3 separate regions of the Homo sapiens genome follow, and regions 2 and 3 are each linked to region 1. Evidence: fine-mapped expression QTL. A gene starts in region 1. Each other region holds a variant in brackets. All regions are shown on one strand. Distances are from middle to middle. Region 1 holds the start of LAT2 (linker for activation of T cells family member 2). Region 2 overlaps EIF4H (eukaryotic translation initiation factor 4H). Region 3 overlaps RFC2 (replication factor C subunit 2).

Evidence for each region. PIP is the estimated chance that this variant, and not a neighbour inherited with it, causes the effect.
Region 2: its variant is fine-mapped to the expression of LAT2 in whole blood (TOPMed, PIP above 0.99).
Region 3: its variant is fine-mapped to the expression of LAT2 in whole blood (INTERVAL, PIP above 0.99).

The regions. Positions count from the first base shown.
Region 1 is chr7:74,207,098-74,212,825 of GRCh38, forward strand. LAT2 (linker for activation of T cells family member 2) reads left to right here and starts at 2,909. Exons shown (of 14, transcript NM_032464.3): 1 at 2,909-2,991. RefSeq lists enhancers at 2,393-2,502, 3,723-3,842, 5,713-5,728 and silencers at 2,783-2,832, 3,943-4,032.
Region 2 is chr7:74,178,494-74,184,221 of GRCh38, forward strand. The region is part of intron 1 of EIF4H (eukaryotic translation initiation factor 4H); the gene reads left to right. Among named protein-coding and RNA genes, the nearest start is that of EIF4H, 7.0 kb to the left of the region's middle. RefSeq lists enhancers at 955-1,455, 1,456-1,956. The variant G/A (reference allele first, on the strand shown) is at 3,042.
Region 3 is chr7:74,232,660-74,238,387 of GRCh38, forward strand. RFC2 (replication factor C subunit 2) reads right to left here. Exons shown (of 11, transcript NM_181471.3): 9 at 4,703-4,783; 10 at 2,873-2,986. Among named protein-coding and RNA genes, the nearest start is that of RFC2, 19 kb to the right of the region's middle. The variant C/T (reference allele first, on the strand shown) is at 3,303.

The sequences.
Region 1 (5,728 bases):
GGGCAACATAGTGAGACCTTGTCTCTACAAAAAAAAAAAAATACAAAAATTAGCTGGGCGTGGTGGCATGCACCTGGGGTTCCAGCTAACTCTGGAGGCTGAGGTGGGAGGATCGTTTGAGCCTGGGAGGCAGAGGTTGCAGTGAGCTGAGATTGCACCACTGCACTCCAGCCTGAGTGACCGGGTGAGACCCCATCTCAAAAAAAATTTTAAAAAAGGGGAAAGAACAGCAGGTAACCTCTATCCAGGTGCACAGTCTGGGGCTGAAGGGAAACTGTTGCAGGCTTGTTCCCATTGTGTGAGGAGGAGCCAGTCAGGGGGTCCCAGTGAGGAAGCCAGGCTTTGGGGTCTGGGTTCAAATTCAGCTTCACCTCTGGACCGAGTGAGACCCTGTCTCAAAAAAAAAAAAAAAAAGCAGGCGAGGAATAGAGACAGAGGGTCAGACAGCAAGAGTCCCAGAGGATGAGACAGATGGACACAGAGACAAAGGATGCGGGATGTAGGTGGGCAGGGCAGGGACAGAGAGACCCCTGCAGAGGCCACGAGGGCAGGGCAGATGGAACAAGTGACCAAAGACAGGTGGAGGAGTGGACGGCACGAGTGTCAGAGGCTGCAGACAGCGAGGGCGCTAAAGGGTGGGAGAAGGAAGGAGAGCCCTGCTCCACCCCAGCCTTGGGGGTCTCATCACCCCACTGCACAGATGAGGCTCCTGGCATCGGGGTGCAGAGAACGGCTCATAGCACAGGCAGAGGGACCACAGCCCACTCCTGCCCAGCGGTGCTCCTGTGCCCAGCCCTGGGGTGGACACCGTGGCTGCCATCCACACAGACATGAGGACCGAGTGAGATAGTTCCCTGTGGAGGCCAGGATGCTCTGGCACCTGAGGTCAATAAAGCCACATCCCACAAGTGGGTGGACTGCCTTGTGCTATTGACCATTAAACAGCTGCCCAAGGCCATTGAGCTATTAATTAAATAATAATTATTATTATTTTAAATTTTTTTGTTGTGTTTTTTGGGTTTTTTTGTTTTTGTTTTGTTTTTTTGAGATGGAGTCTCGCTCTGTTGTCCAGGCTGTAGTGCAGTGGCACGATCTTGGCTCACTGCAAACTCCGCCTTCTGGGCTCAAGTGATTCTCCTGCCTCAGCCTCCCAAGTAGCTGGGATTACAGGCACCCACCATCACACCCGGCAAATTTTTGTATTTTTAGTAGAGATGGGGTTTCACCATTTTGGCCAGGCTGGTCTCAAACTCCCGACCTAAATAAGGTGATCCACCTGCCTTGGCCTCCCAAAGTGCTGGGATTACAGATGTGAGCCACCACGCCCGGCCTATTTATTGTTTTTACAGACAGACAGGGTCTTGCTGTCCCCCAGGCTGGAGTGCAGTGGCAGAGTCACGGCTCACTGCAGCCTCCAACTCTTGGGCTCAAGAAATCCTCCCGTTTTGGCCTCCCAAAACACTGGGACTACAGGTGTGTGCCACCACACCCAGCTAATTAAAAAAATTTTTTTAGAGATGGGGTCTCGTTCTGTTGTCCAGGCTGGTCTCAAATTCCTGTTCTCAAGCGATCCTCCTGCCTCAGCCTCCAAAAATGTTAGGATTGCAGGTGCAAGCCACTGCACCTGGCCTCTATCTCCCTGTTTCTTGCTCTCTCCCCATCTGTGTGTGTCTCTGACAGTCTGTGGCTCTCTGTATCTTTCTGTGTGTCTCTCTGTGTGTGTCTTGGTCCATCTCATGCCCAGCTAATTTTTAAATTTTTTGTAGAGATGGGGTTTCACCATGTTGGCCAGGCTGGTCTTGAACTCCAGACCTCAGGTGATTCTCCTGCTTCAGCCTCCCAAAGTGTTGGGATTACAGGCATGAGCCACCGTGCCTGGCCCATGGGTATGAATTTCTGCCTGTGTGTGTCTTCTTCTTTTTTTTTTTTTTTTTGAGATGAAGTCTTGCTCTGTCACCCAGGCTGGAGTGCAGTGGCGCTATCTTGGCTCACTGCAACCTCCACCTCCTGGGTTCAAGCAATTCTCCTGCCTCAGCCTCCCGAGTAGCTGGGATTACAGGCACCCGCCACCACACCCAGATAATTTTTGTATTTTTGGTAGATATGGGGTTTCACCATGTTGGTCAGGCTGGTTTTGAACCCCTGACTTCATGACCTGCCTGCCTTGGCCTCCCAAAGTGCTGGGATTACAGGCATGAGCCACCGCGCCCGGCCCATGGGTGTGAATTTCTGCCTGTGTGTGTCTTTTTAGCGTATGTGTGTCTCCATATCTGCCATCTGCAGGAGCACCTCAGTTTCATTATCTTGCTCCCTGTCTATTGGAGTGTATCTCTCTTCCTCTCTGTGTGACTTTTTGTGTTTATGTGTGTGTTTAGTGTGTGTCCATATTTTCCTGTTCTCTTGTGTCTCTCTGCTGTGTCTCTCTCTTTTTCTTTCTGTTTTTTGAGACGGAGTCTCCCTCTGTCACCCAGGCTGGAGTGCAGTGGTGCGATCTCGGCTCACTGCAACCTCTGCTTCTGAGGTTCAAACGATTCTCCTGCCTCAGCCTCCCGAGTAGCTGGAATTACAGACACATGCCACCATGCCCAGCTAATTTTGTATTTTTAATAGAGACGGGGTTTCACCATGTTGGCCAGGCTGGTCTTAAACTCTTGACCTTACGTGATCCACCCGCCTCGGCCTCCCAAAGTTTTTGGATTACAGGTGTGAGCCACCTCGCCCGGTCCTATCTCTCTTTCTTCTCTTTCTCCCTCTCACTTTGTTTCTCTTCTCTCTCTCTCTCCCGCCTCCTTCCCCCGTCTCCCCTCCCTTCCCCCCACCGCCCTCTTCATAGCTGAGCCTGTCCGGCAGTGCGGCGGATGTACGGATGATTCAGTGGCTGGCAGGAAGCCCGCCCTGCCCGCCCGCCAGTGTCAGTGGTGTTGGCATCAGCTTGGGCAGGTGTGCGGGCTCAGGATGGGGCGGCCGTGGTGAGGAACCCTGGACTCTCAGGTAAGCCTTTCCCAGGGGTGCCTCAGTCCTCAGGCTGTCCCCCATCCCCCAGGAGCTCCTGGCCCCACTGGGTGGGGTGGGAAGAGGCCTGGATGCCTGGCGCCCCCTCCCGCAGCCCCACTCTCACCCTGGCACCAGGCTCTGTGGCACTTCAGGGGTCAGTTTGTTTCTGGGCTTCTGGCCACTCTCTTGCCCTCGCCTTCCCCTGTCCAGCCTGTGTAGCCTTGGGACATCCCAGGGTGGTCCCATCATTGCCAGAGACTGGTGAAGTAAGTGGCCGAGAGCCAAAACAGTGGCTGCCCTGGCCTGGGAGCCTCGGTTTCCTCATCCGTGAAATGGGACTGTAACCCCCTACACAGGTCAGGGGAAAACGGTGGGATTACAGGCCAGGGCCCAGGTCTTGCCCCAGGTCAGGTGAAGAACCCCCACTGCCTCCCTGCCCAGCCCCCTACCTGGCCCTCAACTCTGTCCCTGGGACCAGGGCTGCTCAGGCCCCTCCTGCACCCGCCCGCCTCCCTCTCTCCCTCCCAGCTAGGCTCATTTGAAGCCCAGAGTTATTTGGAAAAAGCAACAGGACCAGCCGGGCACGGTGGCTCAACCTGTAATCCCAGCATTTGGGGAGGCCAAGGCGGGAGGATCATTTGAAGTCAGGAGCTGGAGACCAGCCTGAGCAACATAGTGAGACTCCCATCTCTTTAAAAAATAAAAATAAAAAAATATAATTAAAAACTAAATGAAAAAACCAACAGACCCCAGAGCAGAGTCCAGTGGATAAAGCCATCCAGGGCTTCAAGCCAGGCTGCCCCCTCCCCAACCCCAGTGTCCCCAACCACAGCTCAGCTCGGAGAAGGCTGGGAGAACCGGCAGGGTGGTCTCGAGCGTCCTTCCAGGCGGGATTCAGACACTGTAGCTCCTCCAGCCCAGCCCCGAGAACTTCCCCGAAGCCAGCTCTTGGCAATCGTTGTTCATATGAAAACTGCCCACTTCCCTTTAGTGCTATTTTGGCCTCTGCAGAACCGTGGTCTGTGGCAGCCCCCACTCCCCACCCCGCCCAGCCCTGCCGGCCCCTGGGGGCCTCAGAGGGTCCACCCTCCGCTCCCTCCACCTCAGCCCACCTGCTTTCAGAACCTGGATGGGAGAGTGAAAGTGAGAGCGAGACAGAGACACAAAGGGAGACAGAGACAGAGAGAGAGCACAGAATTTTTTTAAACGGAGTCTCACTCTGTTGTCCAGGCTGGAGTGCAGTGGCGTGATCTCGGCTCACTGCAACCTCCACCTCCCAGGTTCAAGCAGTTCTCCTGCCTTACCCTTCCAAGTAGCTGGGGACTACAGGCACGTGCTACCACACCTGGCTAATTTTTTATTTTTTATTTATTTTTTATTTTTTGGAGACAGTCTTGCTCTGTCTCCCAGGCTGGGAGTGCAGTGGTGCAATCTTGGCTCACTGCAAGCTCCACCTCCCGGGTACATGCCATTCTCCTGCCTCAGCCTCCCGAGTAGCTGAGACTAGAGGCGCCTGCCACCACGACCGGCTAATTTTTTGTATTTTTAGTAGAGACGGGGTTTCGCCATGTTAGCCAGGATGGTCTCAATCTCCTGACTTTGTGATCTGCCTGCCTCGGCCTCCCAAAGTGCTGGGATTACAGGTGTGAGCCACCGTGCCTGGCCTAATTTTTTATTTTTAGTAGAGACAGGGTTTCACCATGTTGGCCAGGCTGGTCTTGAACTCCTGACCTCAGATGATTTGCCCGCCTCAGCCTCCCAAAGTGTTGGGATTACAGGTGTGAACTACCGCACCCGGCCAACAGCGCAGGATGTATTCAGTCTGGGGGCAGACACATGACTGTTTGTTAAATTTCATTTTTTGTTTTTAGAGATGGGGTCTTGCTCTGTCACCCAGGCTGGAGTTCAGTGGTGTGATCTTGGCTCACTGCAGCTTCCAACTCCTGGGCTCAAGCAATTCTCTTGCCTCAGTGTCCCAAGTAGCTGGAACCACAGGCATGTGCCACTGCGCCTGCCTAATTTTTTCATTTTTTTGTAGAGACAGGGCCTTGTTACATCGTCCATGCTGGTCTCGAACTCCTGGCCTCAAGCGATCCTCCTGTCTCGGCCTCCCAGTGTTGAGATTACAGGCGTCAGCCACCACGCCCAGCCTGATCCCATTTTATTTATTCATTTATTTAATTTATTATTATTATTATTATTATTTTGAGATGGAGTCTCACTCTGTCTCCCATGCTGGAGTGCACTGGCGTGATCTCAGCTCACTGCAACTCACTGCCTCCTGAGTTCAAGTGATTCTCATGCCTCAGCCTCCCAAGTAGCTGGAATTACAGGCTTGCACCTCCACGCCTGGCTAATTTTTGTATTTCTAGTAGAAACAGGGTTTCACCATGTTGGCCAAGCTGGTCTCAAACTCAAGTGATCCTCCTGTCTCAGCCTCCCAAAGTATTGGGATTACAGGTGTGAGTCCCTGTACCCAGCCCGACCTCATTTTATAGATGAGAAAACTGAGGCGGGGGGCTCTCAGGCAGAGGCTAGATTTGGTCCCATGAGCCCTCCTGCAAGACAAGTTGCTCCAACCTCACAAGCCTGAGATGAACTTGGGCCATGCTGGAGGGGTTGGGGGTACACCCCGGGTTGGGGGCACTGAGGCAAGGAGAGTTTCGAGGAGGGAGAAGGGCAGTGCCCAGGCGGGCCATGGGGAAGAGAGAGCAGAGCTTTCCTCGGACAACCT
Region 2 (5,728 bases), 29 kb before region 1:
AGATCATGCCACTGCACTCCTCCAGCCTGGGCGACAGAGAGAGACTGTCTCCAAAAAAAAAAAAAGAAAAATTAAGCTTAGTGTTCTGGAAAGACTTCACAATTTTAAGGAGTCTCCCTGGAAGCTTAGAACGTACAAAGCAGACTCTGAATGTCTTTCCAGGATCACACTCTGGCTTCCAGCTTCCCCTGGAAGGTTCAGGAGAGTATTTGTCGCCTGGTTGCTTTTACATCATGCTGATTAGACCTGCACACCCGGGCATGAAATGAGTGTGATTGCATCATTTTCATAGAACCTAATGGCAGCTGTATGTACGTCTAAGACTTCTTTTGTGTAAGTCGAATGTTCTTCGAAGTTTCCCCACGTCATGATTTATGTGATTTTCCGTCTTGATCAGGACCTTCTGAAGGAGCTCAAGTATGTGGCTGCTCCACGGTTGATGAGTCTCTGGTTAAGCATGGCCTTCCAGTTCAGGGCTAGGGGGGCCGTCACCTCCCTTTGTTCTGCACATTCTTCTCCTGTCTTTCATGTATACTCACATTTTTGGAGCCTTCTGTGTACTCACATTTTTGGAGCCTTCTAAATGTCTGGCTTAATAGAACACAGCTGGATTCTCATACCTGCATCTGTCTCCACTCTTGGAATGTGTTGCTTTGGTTGACTTTTATGGAGCAGCTCAATCCTTGCACAGATAAATAGTTGGAAATGGGAGGAGTAATCAAATAATTCTGGATATTCATATTTGATTCTATACCAAAACTCAATAAGCAGTAGTTTCTATGAAGGTTAGTTGCAATGTGAAACCTAAAACCTTATCAATAAACTCTTCATACTTTTACATTAGAGTTCATCATTTGGCTGGGCGCGGTGGCTCACTCCTGTAACCCCAGGACTTTGGGAGGCCAAGGCGGGCGGATTACCTGAGGTCAGTAGTCTGAGACCAGCCTGGCTAACATGGCAAAGCCCCATCTCTACTAAAAACACAAAAACTAGCTGGGCATGGTGGTGGGCCCCTGTAGTCCCAGCTACTTGGGAGGCTGAAGCCATAGAATCACTTGAACCTGGGAGGTGGAGTTTGCAGTGAGCCCAGATTGCGCCACTGCACTCCCGCCTGGGCGACAGGGTGAGACTCTGTATCAAAAAAAAAAAAAAAAAGTCACTTTATCTTGTACTCCGACTGGATCCTTTACCAGTGCATACATTTGTAAGGTGTTGGTGATTTGGAAAGGACCTGTTCACTGAGCCAGGCAGAGCCATGCAGATGTTCCAGATGTTGGTACATTTTGTTATACAGTATCAAAGTCACATTCACCATAGCTGTTAGAAAAGTCTCTGAGTATTGAAAGACTGTCAGGCTTATGTTGATGGATACAGGTTTTCCGAAACTCTTTTTTGCTTGAAAGCTTAAATTTTACCATTGGCAACAAATACTGTTATTTTGGCCAGGTGCTGTGGCTCATGTCTGTAATCCCAACACTTTGGGAGGCCATGGCAGGAGGATCACTCTAGCCCAGTCTGGACAATATGTCCAGACCTGGTCTTTTCAAAAATAAAATTAGCTGGTGTGGTGGTATATGCCTATAGTCCCACCTACTTGGGAGGCTGAGGCTAGAGGATCACTTGAGTCCTGGAGATTGAGGCTGCAGTGAGCAGTGATTGCACCACAGCACTCAAATCTGGGCAACAGAGCAAGACCCTGTCTCAAAACAAAAAACCCAAATACTGTTCTTTTACTTCAAGGAACAGACTTAACTTCATTTTTAAAAAACTTAGTACCCATGTCTGAATTAACCATAGTTTGTTCTATAGAAAGAACAGCTAGTTCAGCTTGTAGCTCAAGTGCTTTTCCTGCAGCAGCCATCATGCTTGTGTATGCAGCAGAAGTGCTTTGCGTGTTTCATAACATAGGGTACTAAAAAGTGGGTCACGATTCATTTTTACTGCTTTACCAAGGATATTCCTAATTGAAGCTGTGATTTTTCTTCCTATTTTAAATACTTCAAGTGCATGGTGGGAAAGCATGAGTAATGTAGTTTGATGCCCCTGCCTTCGTTTGTATTAACACAAAGACCTGTTGTGAGATCAGTATAGGTCTTTGCTTTATAAATGTGGAATATTGTGAACCATTCTGGGAACCATATTTTAAGGCATCAGCACACTGGAGCCTATGAAGAAGAAGGTGATAGTGGGGATGGCCAGGCTCTGAAACTTCATCTTAGGAGGAAGGGCTGAGCAGCTTCAGTGAGGACCTTCGAAAGAAGCCTCAGCAGCAGTGATACAGCAGCTCTTAAGTCTCTGGGACTGCTGAGTGGAAGAAAGGTGTGGCCCTCCAGGCCAGAATAGGACCAAAGGATTACATCTTGGCCTTCTTCAGAGACTGCACAAATGTAAAGAACTGCTGCTTGAGCTAAATAATTGTTTTTTTAATAGAGACAGGGTCTCCCTTTGTTGCCTAAGCTGGTCTTGAACTAGCCTCAAGGGATACTCCTGCCTTGACCTCCTAAAGTGCTGGGATTGCAAGCATGAGCCACCACGCCCAGCCTCAACCATTTTTAAGTGTACAATTTAGTGGCATGGAGTACCTTCATAGTGTTGTGTAACCATTGCCACTATCTAGTTCCAGAACCTTTTCATAATCCAAACAGAAACTCTATACCCACTAAACAACTCCATTCCTTTCCCAGTTTTAACCTCATAAACATTTTGGCTATTTCTGTTACATCTATCTTCCCTACTTTTGGGTGGAGGTGTGGGCTAGGATAATTTAAGGCTAATCCTAGTCACCTATCCTTCTAAAATAGTTCTTATTTTTTTAAATTTTAATCCTCATCTTTGTGTTGGTAAATATTACATACTTTAGAGCAATTTTTGTTTCAATTTTTATGGCTACCGTAGTAGATGTATCTTATATATTCTTTCTTTGTTTTTTTTGTTTTTTGTTTTGTTTTGTTTTCTGAGGCAGAGTTTTACTCTTGTTGCCCAGGCTGGAATGCAGTGGCACTATCTCGGCTCACCACAACCTCCGCCTCCTGGGTTCAAGC[G/A]ATTCTCCTGCCTCAGCCTCCCGAGTAGCTGGGATTACAGGCATGTGCCACCACACCTGGCAAATTTTGTATTTTTAGCAGAGATAGAGCAGAAACAGAGGGTTTCTACATGTTGGTCAGGCTGGTCTCGAACTCCCGACCTCAGGTAATCTGCCTGCCTCGGCCTCCCAAAGTGCTGGGATTACAGGTGTGAGCCACCGAGCCCGGCCTTTTTTTTTGAGATGGAGTCTCACTCTGCCTCCCAGGCTAGAGCTCAGTGGCGCGATCTCAGCTCACTGCAGCCTCCGCCACCACCCCTCAGCCTCCCGAGTAGCTGGGATTACAGGCACCTGCCACTGTGCCCAGCTGATTTTTGTACTGTTAGTAGAGATGGGGTTTCACCATGTTGGCCGGGTTGGTCTTGAACTCCTGACCTTGTGATTCATCCGCTTCAGCCTCCCAAAGTGCTGGGATTATAGGTGTGAGCCACCACACCCGGCCTCTTACATACTTTTCATACTTGAGTATGTTTCTAACAGATAAGGGCTTCTTTTTTTTCTTTAACCAACAGTTTTTCCAGTACCCAGTGTTCAGTTTTTCCCAGTTTTTGCAAAGATGACTTTGTATAGTTGGATTGTTTGAATATGCAAAACATTACAGAAAAATGTAGAAAATTTAGAACACGAACCAAAGCATAATATAGTGACCTGTATACCCATTACCTACTCTTTAAGTGACCACTCTTCTCTATACTACTATGGTTTATAATAGGTAGTATAAATGGTATTTATCAAAGGCTTGACCTTTGAAAGCTTAACCATTTTTGATGATTGTCAAAAACCCAAATGTTACCTGTTTGTAGATATGGGGTTTTGCCGTGTTCCCCACGCTGGTCTCAAACTCCTGAGCTCAAGTGATCTCCCCACCTTGGCCTCCCGAAGTGCCGGGATTGCAGGTGTGAGCCATGGCGTCCGGCCAGTCATTTTCTTTGGTTTACACTACTTTACCCTTCTGGGCCCTACTTTCCCCAAATGAGAGCTAGAAACTCCTCTGTTGGGAGGTTTAAATGAGATGTGTCTCATAATTTGGAGGCATAGTCTTGCCCTGTTGCCCAGGCTGGAGTGCAGTTGCACAATCACAGTCCCAAAGTGCTGGGACTACAGGCCGGAGCCACATGCCCATGCCCAGCCTTGAGCACTCAACTTTCTGTTGCATCTACTTACTGGATACATCCCTACCCTCATAACATCTACTCTGTACATTGGCTTCTTTTTATAGTTACCCTCTCTCAGTCTCCTTTGACACCTACAGATCTTTTCTGGCTCACCCTAAGGGTTCAGTATTGGCCCCATCTGCCATCTGGAAGTGGAGTCCCACTTCTGTTGCTCTCTGCTGTGCTGCATATCCTGGCTCCCAACTGCTCCACCCTGGTGAAACTGTTCTCATTGCTATCTTCCAGATTTTCTGCAGTCCTTTGCTTGTGACGTGATTTCTCCTTTCCAAATTATCAGCTCCTTGAGGGCAGAAACCGAGTCTTAGGTTTGTGCCTTCTCTACATTCTCTCCACCCTTCATAGACATGCAGATACGTGGTTGATTTGAGTAAGGAAAAGTGATTTGCCTGTCAAGGATTTTAGTCACACTTGGAGCCGAAAGTAGGGTTTCCTAAATTACTGAGGCTGTAATTGACTACTTTAATCTTTCATAATCAATAGACTGTCCCTAATGGGCAGTAGAAAGGACACTGCTCAGTAGTGGCAGGGAGTTTGCAGCACAGACCTTGACTTCAGGTGTCCTGAATTGGCACGCTCTGCTGATCTGTTCCTGTTCTACACGCACTCCTGCCAGCCCAGTGTAGCCTCAGGCCTGTTGGGTCTACCCAGGAGCATGGCAGAATTATATAGCACTTGGTACTTAGGAAATGTTTTTATGGTCAGTTTTAAACTTATAAAATCAAGATTGAAATATAACAGACAAGAAAACATAGGTACAGAGGTAATTTGGCAGAGGTCCTACATCAAGCTAGCTAAGGTGTCAAGTGAACCTGTTCTCCCATGTGTTGTTATTGATCTGTGTAGGAATGTACTGAATTTCACGAAACACAGCTTATTTATTTAGGTAGTAGTCCCCCAAACTTGAATCTAGTGAAAGGTGGCAGACATTTTAGCTCAGAGTTTTCTGACATTTGATTTTGTAAATGAATCGGTGGGTAACAGATCTGTGTCATCCTATGTGATGTGATGTGATGTCATCCTATGTGATGTGTACTCTGGGGTACTCACATCCTATGTGATGTGTCTCAAGTGACTGTCACACAGTGGACACTTTACCAGTGCTAGCTTGAATGAGGTCTACCTCCATGGCCCAGCCCTGCTGCCCCCTAGTGATTTCATTGAATGGGATGAAAAGGTAAAAAGTGCTTAAGACCTGTAGAAGGGACTACATCAGGTAGGGTATGGGAATATTTAGGACTACTTTGGTAATTATTGAAAAGTCTAGAGTATTAAGCCACTGGTGGTTTTGTGAGGCACGAGTGAGTTGAACAGTTTGGTGGGCTTTGGTGTATCTTTGCTCCAGAATTATATCACCAGTTAGCTGTTAGGTGCTGCCATTTGGTAACGTGCCAACTTTTCAAAAATGGTTTGCCCCAAACTAGATTTTTCTATCTTCTCCAAAGCCAGAGCCACCTTCCTGTCCTAGTGCATTTTT
Region 3 (5,728 bases), 26 kb after region 1:
TTCGAGATCAGCCTGACCAACATGGTAAAACCCCATCTCTACTAAAAATACAAAAATTAGCCAGGTATGGTGGCGCACGCCTGTAATCCCAGCTACTCGGGAGGCTGAGGCAGGAGAATCACTTAAACCTGGGAGGCGAAGGTTGCAGTGAGCTGAGATAGTGCCACTGCACTCCAGCCTGGGCAACAGAGCAAGACTCCATCTCAAAAATAAATAAGTAAATAAATTCAGTAATAAAAATCAAACAACCCAATTAAAAAATGGGTAGATTTAGACCTGGAGCAGTAGCTCACACCTGTAATCCCAGCATTCTGGGAGGCTGAGGCAGGAGGATCACTTGCCCAGAGTTGGGCCTGGGCAACATAGCAACACCCAAACTCTACGAAAAAAAGAAAATAAAAATGACCCAAGTGTAGTGGCACATGCCTGCAGTCCCAGCTACTCGGGAGCCTGAGGTGGGAGGATTGCTTGAGCATGGAAGGTTGAGGCTGCAGTGAACTATGATCGCACCACTGCACTCCAGCCTGGGTGACAGAGCAAGACCCTGTCTCTCAAAAACATAAAAAAGGTAGGCCAGGCGCAGTGGCTCACACCTGTAATTCTAGCACTTTGGGAGGCCGAGGCGGGAGGATCACTTGAGCCCGGGAGTTCAAGACCAGCCTTGGCAACACGGGGACACCCCGTCTCCACCAAAAATATAAAAATTGGCCGGTCTTAACATGATCTCTAAACAAAAAATACAGTACAATTAAAATAAAAAATGTAAAAATTTTAAAAAATGGGTATATATGAACAGATGTTTCATCAAAGAAGATTCTGGATGGCAAACGAGCACATGATTAAATGTTCAGCATAGTAATTAGGGAAATGCAAATTAAAGGCACAATGAGATCTCATCACATGCCTATTAGGTTATTTTGTTGTTGTTGTTATTGGTTTTTTTTTTTTTTTTTTTTTTAAGATGGAGTCTCACTCTTGTCGCCCAAGCTGTAGTGCAGGGGTGTGATCTCAGCTCACTGCAACCTCCACCTCCTGGGTTCAAGCGATCCTCCTCCCTCAGCCGCCCGAGTAGCTGGGATTACAGGTGTAAGCCACTGCATCCGGTCATTACACACCTATTAGAATGGCTTAAAAACCAAACTGAGCACTCCATGTGGTGGCTAGGTTGAGGATCCTCCGGAATGCTGGTGGGAATGCACGTGCTGCAGCCACTTCGGAAAACCGTTTGGCAGTTCCTTATCGAGTAAAACATACACTTATCATTTTCCCAGGCAATTTCACCCCTGGGAACTTACTTGGGAAAAAGAAAAACTTAACATTTGCATTCACACTAATCCATATATGCAAATGTTTACACTGGCTTTATTCACAGTCACCACAATCTGTAAACCCAAATGTCCTCCAGCTGATGGACAGATAAGCAAACTGTGGTACACGCACAGGATGGATTACTTCTCAGTGATAACACGGACTGACTCATGGATAGAAGTACCAGCGTGGACACATCTGAAAGGCATTTCTGCTACAGTGAAAGAAAGAAGCCAAACTCACAAGGCTAAGTTCTACATGATCCCATTTATATGATATTCTGGAAAACTGTATCCCATGAAACAGAAACTACATCGGTAGTTTCCAAGTGGTAGTCGGGGAGGGGGCTGGCTTCAAAGGGACACATGAGTTGTTCTGGGATGACAGATTCTGCATCCTGATGGTGATAGTGTTTGCATGACTGAGTGCGTTTGTCCTGTACCTAACAGGCTGAATTTTACTCTATGTAAATTAAACCTCAATTAATCTAACCTTGAAAAATCAATCAATCAGTCAATACACAAGAGAGCCTTGAATGAAGAAAATCAGAACTGTGTGAAACAAACTTGGTCCTCAGGACAATCAGCCACGTTGATCTAGTTTGGACGTCTGTCCCCTTCCAATCTCATTTGGAATTTGGTCCCCAATGTGGGGATGTTTGGGTCATGAGGAAGATCCCACGTGAATGGCTTGGTGCCCACCCCAAGGTAGTGAGTGAGTTCTGGATCAATTAGGTCCCTGGAGAGCTGGCTGTTCAAATGAGCCTGGCACCTCCCTCCGTTCTCAACAGGTGGTCTCTGCATGCACAGGCTCCCACTTCCCCTTCCAACATGAGCAGAAGCAGCCTGAACCCCTCCCTAGAAGCAGATGCTGGCATCATGCTACATGTACAGCCTGCAGAACTGTGAGCCAAATCAACCTCTTTTCTTTCTACATTACCCAGTCTCTGGTATTCCTTTATAGTAACTCAAAGGAACTAAGACACAGCCTCCCTCCCACTGCAGTTGGGAAACACTGAGCACCTTCTAGATGCCAGGCCTGTGAGCAGAGAAAGCGAAGCCAGGGCCCACAGTCTTTTTTTTTTGTTTTGAGACAGTCTCGCTCTGCTGCCCAGGCTGGAGTGCAGTGGTGCGATCTTGGCTCACTGCAACCTCCACCTCCCAGGTTCAAGCGATCCTCCTCCCTCAGCCTCCCAAGTAGCTGGGATTATAGGCGCTTGCCACCACACCCAGCTAAGTTTTGTATTTTTAGTAGAGATGGGGCTTTGCCATGTTGGCCAGGCTGGTCTCAAACTCCTGACCTCAGGTGATCCGCCCACCTCGGCCTCCCAAAGTGCTGGGATTACAGGCATGAGCCACCACGCCCAGCCATGCCCAGCTAATTTTTGTATTTTTAGTAGACAGAGGCTTTCACTACGTTGGCCAGGCTGGTCTCGAACTCCTGACCTCAGGTGATCTGCCCACCTCGGCCTCCCAAAGTGCTGGGATTACAGGTGTGGCCCACAGCACCCGGCCACTATGGGCCACATTCTTGAGGACAGAGGCATTTCTACATTCTCACCGACCTTGATAAACTCCAGTTTCAGGTATTCTGCCATTTGGAAAGTTTTACACACTCGAAAGATGTTGCCAATGATATCTTCTGGTGAGTAGCCCAGATGCCACAAGTGAGCAAGAATCTAGACAAAGGAGACAGAAAAGGCTGCTTACCACTTTAAACTGTAAGAAGACATGTGATTTTGAGACTCACCACAGCTGGTGGGGCCCACCCTTCAGGTCACATGGGGGTACCTTAACTGATTTTCATGGCAGATAGAGAGATAACATTGCAAATGTATTGTTGTTTTGCTTAAATATTTTTTTTTCAGTAATATAAAGATAAGAGTCTTGCTATATTGCCCAGGCTGGTCCCAAGTTCCCGGCCTCAAGCAATCCTCCTGCCTCGACCTCCAAAAGTGCTGGGATTACAGGCATGAGCCACTGAGCCCAGCCTAT[C/T]GCAAATGTGTTAAGCTGTGTTGCAAAATGGTCTACTACCACACCCATGTAATCTCTTGATCCGGAGCTCTTAAAATGCTTTATTAATCTGATGACTAGGTATAGCAAAGTGGAAAAAGCAGACCATTCATCTGCTAGCTTCATCCAGCTGCAGTCCCAATGCAACCTCTGCAGGACGAGCCTGGAGCACACCCTGACTGGGTAATCCCAGCCTCCTGCTTCCCACCCACCCTGCCCCACCCAGGCTGCAGCGTCTGGAGGCAGGCCTTTTTGCCTTTGTTTTGGCATCTTGGGGTGAATTCAGGAGGCAGAGAAGCTCTGTGCCCACAAATCTGAAGGCTTTCTTCAGGTCTACTCAGGGACCCTGGGCCTGGGTCTCTGCTCAGTCTCCCCGCCTTGCACTCCGGTTTCACATTGGGTGGAACTATGCCCTAAACCCAGTCAACTTCCAACCTAGTTTGTTAGGGGGTAGGCAGAGGGAAACCATGACTGGATCAATGACCTTGAACCACACCAACCACACCACACCCATGTGGCTTGAGGTCGCCTGAACCCCAGCCACATCTGCTGGAATCTGCTCACAGCACTCAGTCCCATTGTGAGGCTAGAATCTTCCTGCTCCCTCCTCTCCTGGCTAGCTGGGGGCTGCTGGATCCCAGAATGCCTGTGCCTATGAGAATGGATGGGGACACTTCCCCTTAACTGGAGAGAAGATGGCTTCCCTGGAGAAGGAGCTAGGCTGGTCTTTCCTCCTGACTTTGGCTGACAAATTTCTCCTGCAGAGGATATAATTACAGGAGAAAAACACCATTTTGAATTCTAGTTCTACTGCTTTTAAACCATGACTTAGGGCTGGGCATAGTGACATGTGCCTGTAGTCCCAGCTACTTGGGAGGCTGAGGTGGGAGGATCGCCTGAGCCTGAGAGGTAGAGGCTACAGTGAGCTGTGACCGCGCCAGTGCATTCCGGCCTGGGCAACAGAGTAAGACCCTGTTTCTACATAAATAAATAAATAAATAAATAAACAAACACAGTGATTTAGGACAAGGAATTCAGCCTCTGAATCAGTTTTCTCATCAGTAAAGTGCACCCAACTCCTAGCATAATTTTTTTTTTCCAGTTCCTAGACAGATTAACACATAGCATGATATTAATAATTTTTTTTTTTTCCTGAGACAGGGTCTCACCATCACCCAGGCTGGGGTACAGTGGCGCAATCACAGCTCACTGCAGCCTTGACCTCCAAGGCTCAACAAATCCTCCTGCCTCAGTCTCCCAAGTAAGATTTCAAGAATGAATGGAGTGATGTGTATAATGTCCCTGGTACCAGAAGGGCTCCCGCTCTCCTCTGCCCAAGAAGTGAGCGGTTCCTCTGCCAGGACGGGGGGAAGGAGGCCAACCTTGTAGGCTTCGTCAATGTTGGCATTCACACAGTGCTGGATCATCTCCTTTACCAGCAGTGGGTGGGGCTCGTCACAGACCTGGCCAAAGGGAAAGGAAAGGCGGTCAGGGGCTAGAAGGGACAATGTGAGCGGGGAGGCCCCAACAGACCGACTTCCAGGCAATCTATGGGTAAAACTTCTCAACCTGTTGTTTTCATCAAATTCTCCAGCAACCAGGATGAGTTTGGGGAATGCTCCTCTCACCATCAAAGAGAAGTGCTTCCGGCACCAGGAAGATAAATTTCCCAAACATAAGACAGATGAACAAGAGAGCAACCAAGGGCCTGTGAAGGATGCTCACTTGGGGACAGCTTTAAAGTCACAAGTCATCTGTCTTAGATCACTTGGGGGGTCAGTTGCCCAGAACCACTTGGAATTCACTTTAGAACTGGGAGGTCTTTTGGGCCAATTCCCACCTCCACCCCGGAGTAGGAACTGGCCTTCCCTACAAAAGGTCCCCCAGCCTCAGCCTGACACCCTAAACAAGGGGTCAGGCTACTCCAGCAGGCAGGTGCATGGTGCTGGGGACTCCGTCCTCCCTGCAGCATTCTCCGCAGTGGCATGAGGCTCTGCCTCTGGTACAATGTCGACCCCTACATCTTCCCAATGAAAGCCTCCTGATGGCTCCAGAGGTCACCCACACCTGCCCTTGCCTTTTCCCGGTGGAAGCCATGGTTTCCTGAGCCCTCAGTGACCCTCCAAGACAAAACAGGGCCCGAACCATCACCCCTGTTTCTGAGCGGGCCTCCCCTTCCTAAGTGGCCTCGAAAATGCATTCACTGCCCAGATCTACCCAGATGCTTCAAAAATCGCTTGTCTGTTGTCCACAAACCTGGTAAGAAACAGCTATAGGCTGAAAGCTTGGACAGCCCTTCCCAGTTTCTTCCCCCAAATAAGGGGGAAGTGAATCTCTCAAATGGCATTTAGACGCGGAGTTATCAGGATGCGGAAGCAGTTTTCAAAAGAATTCCCAAGAGAAAAATG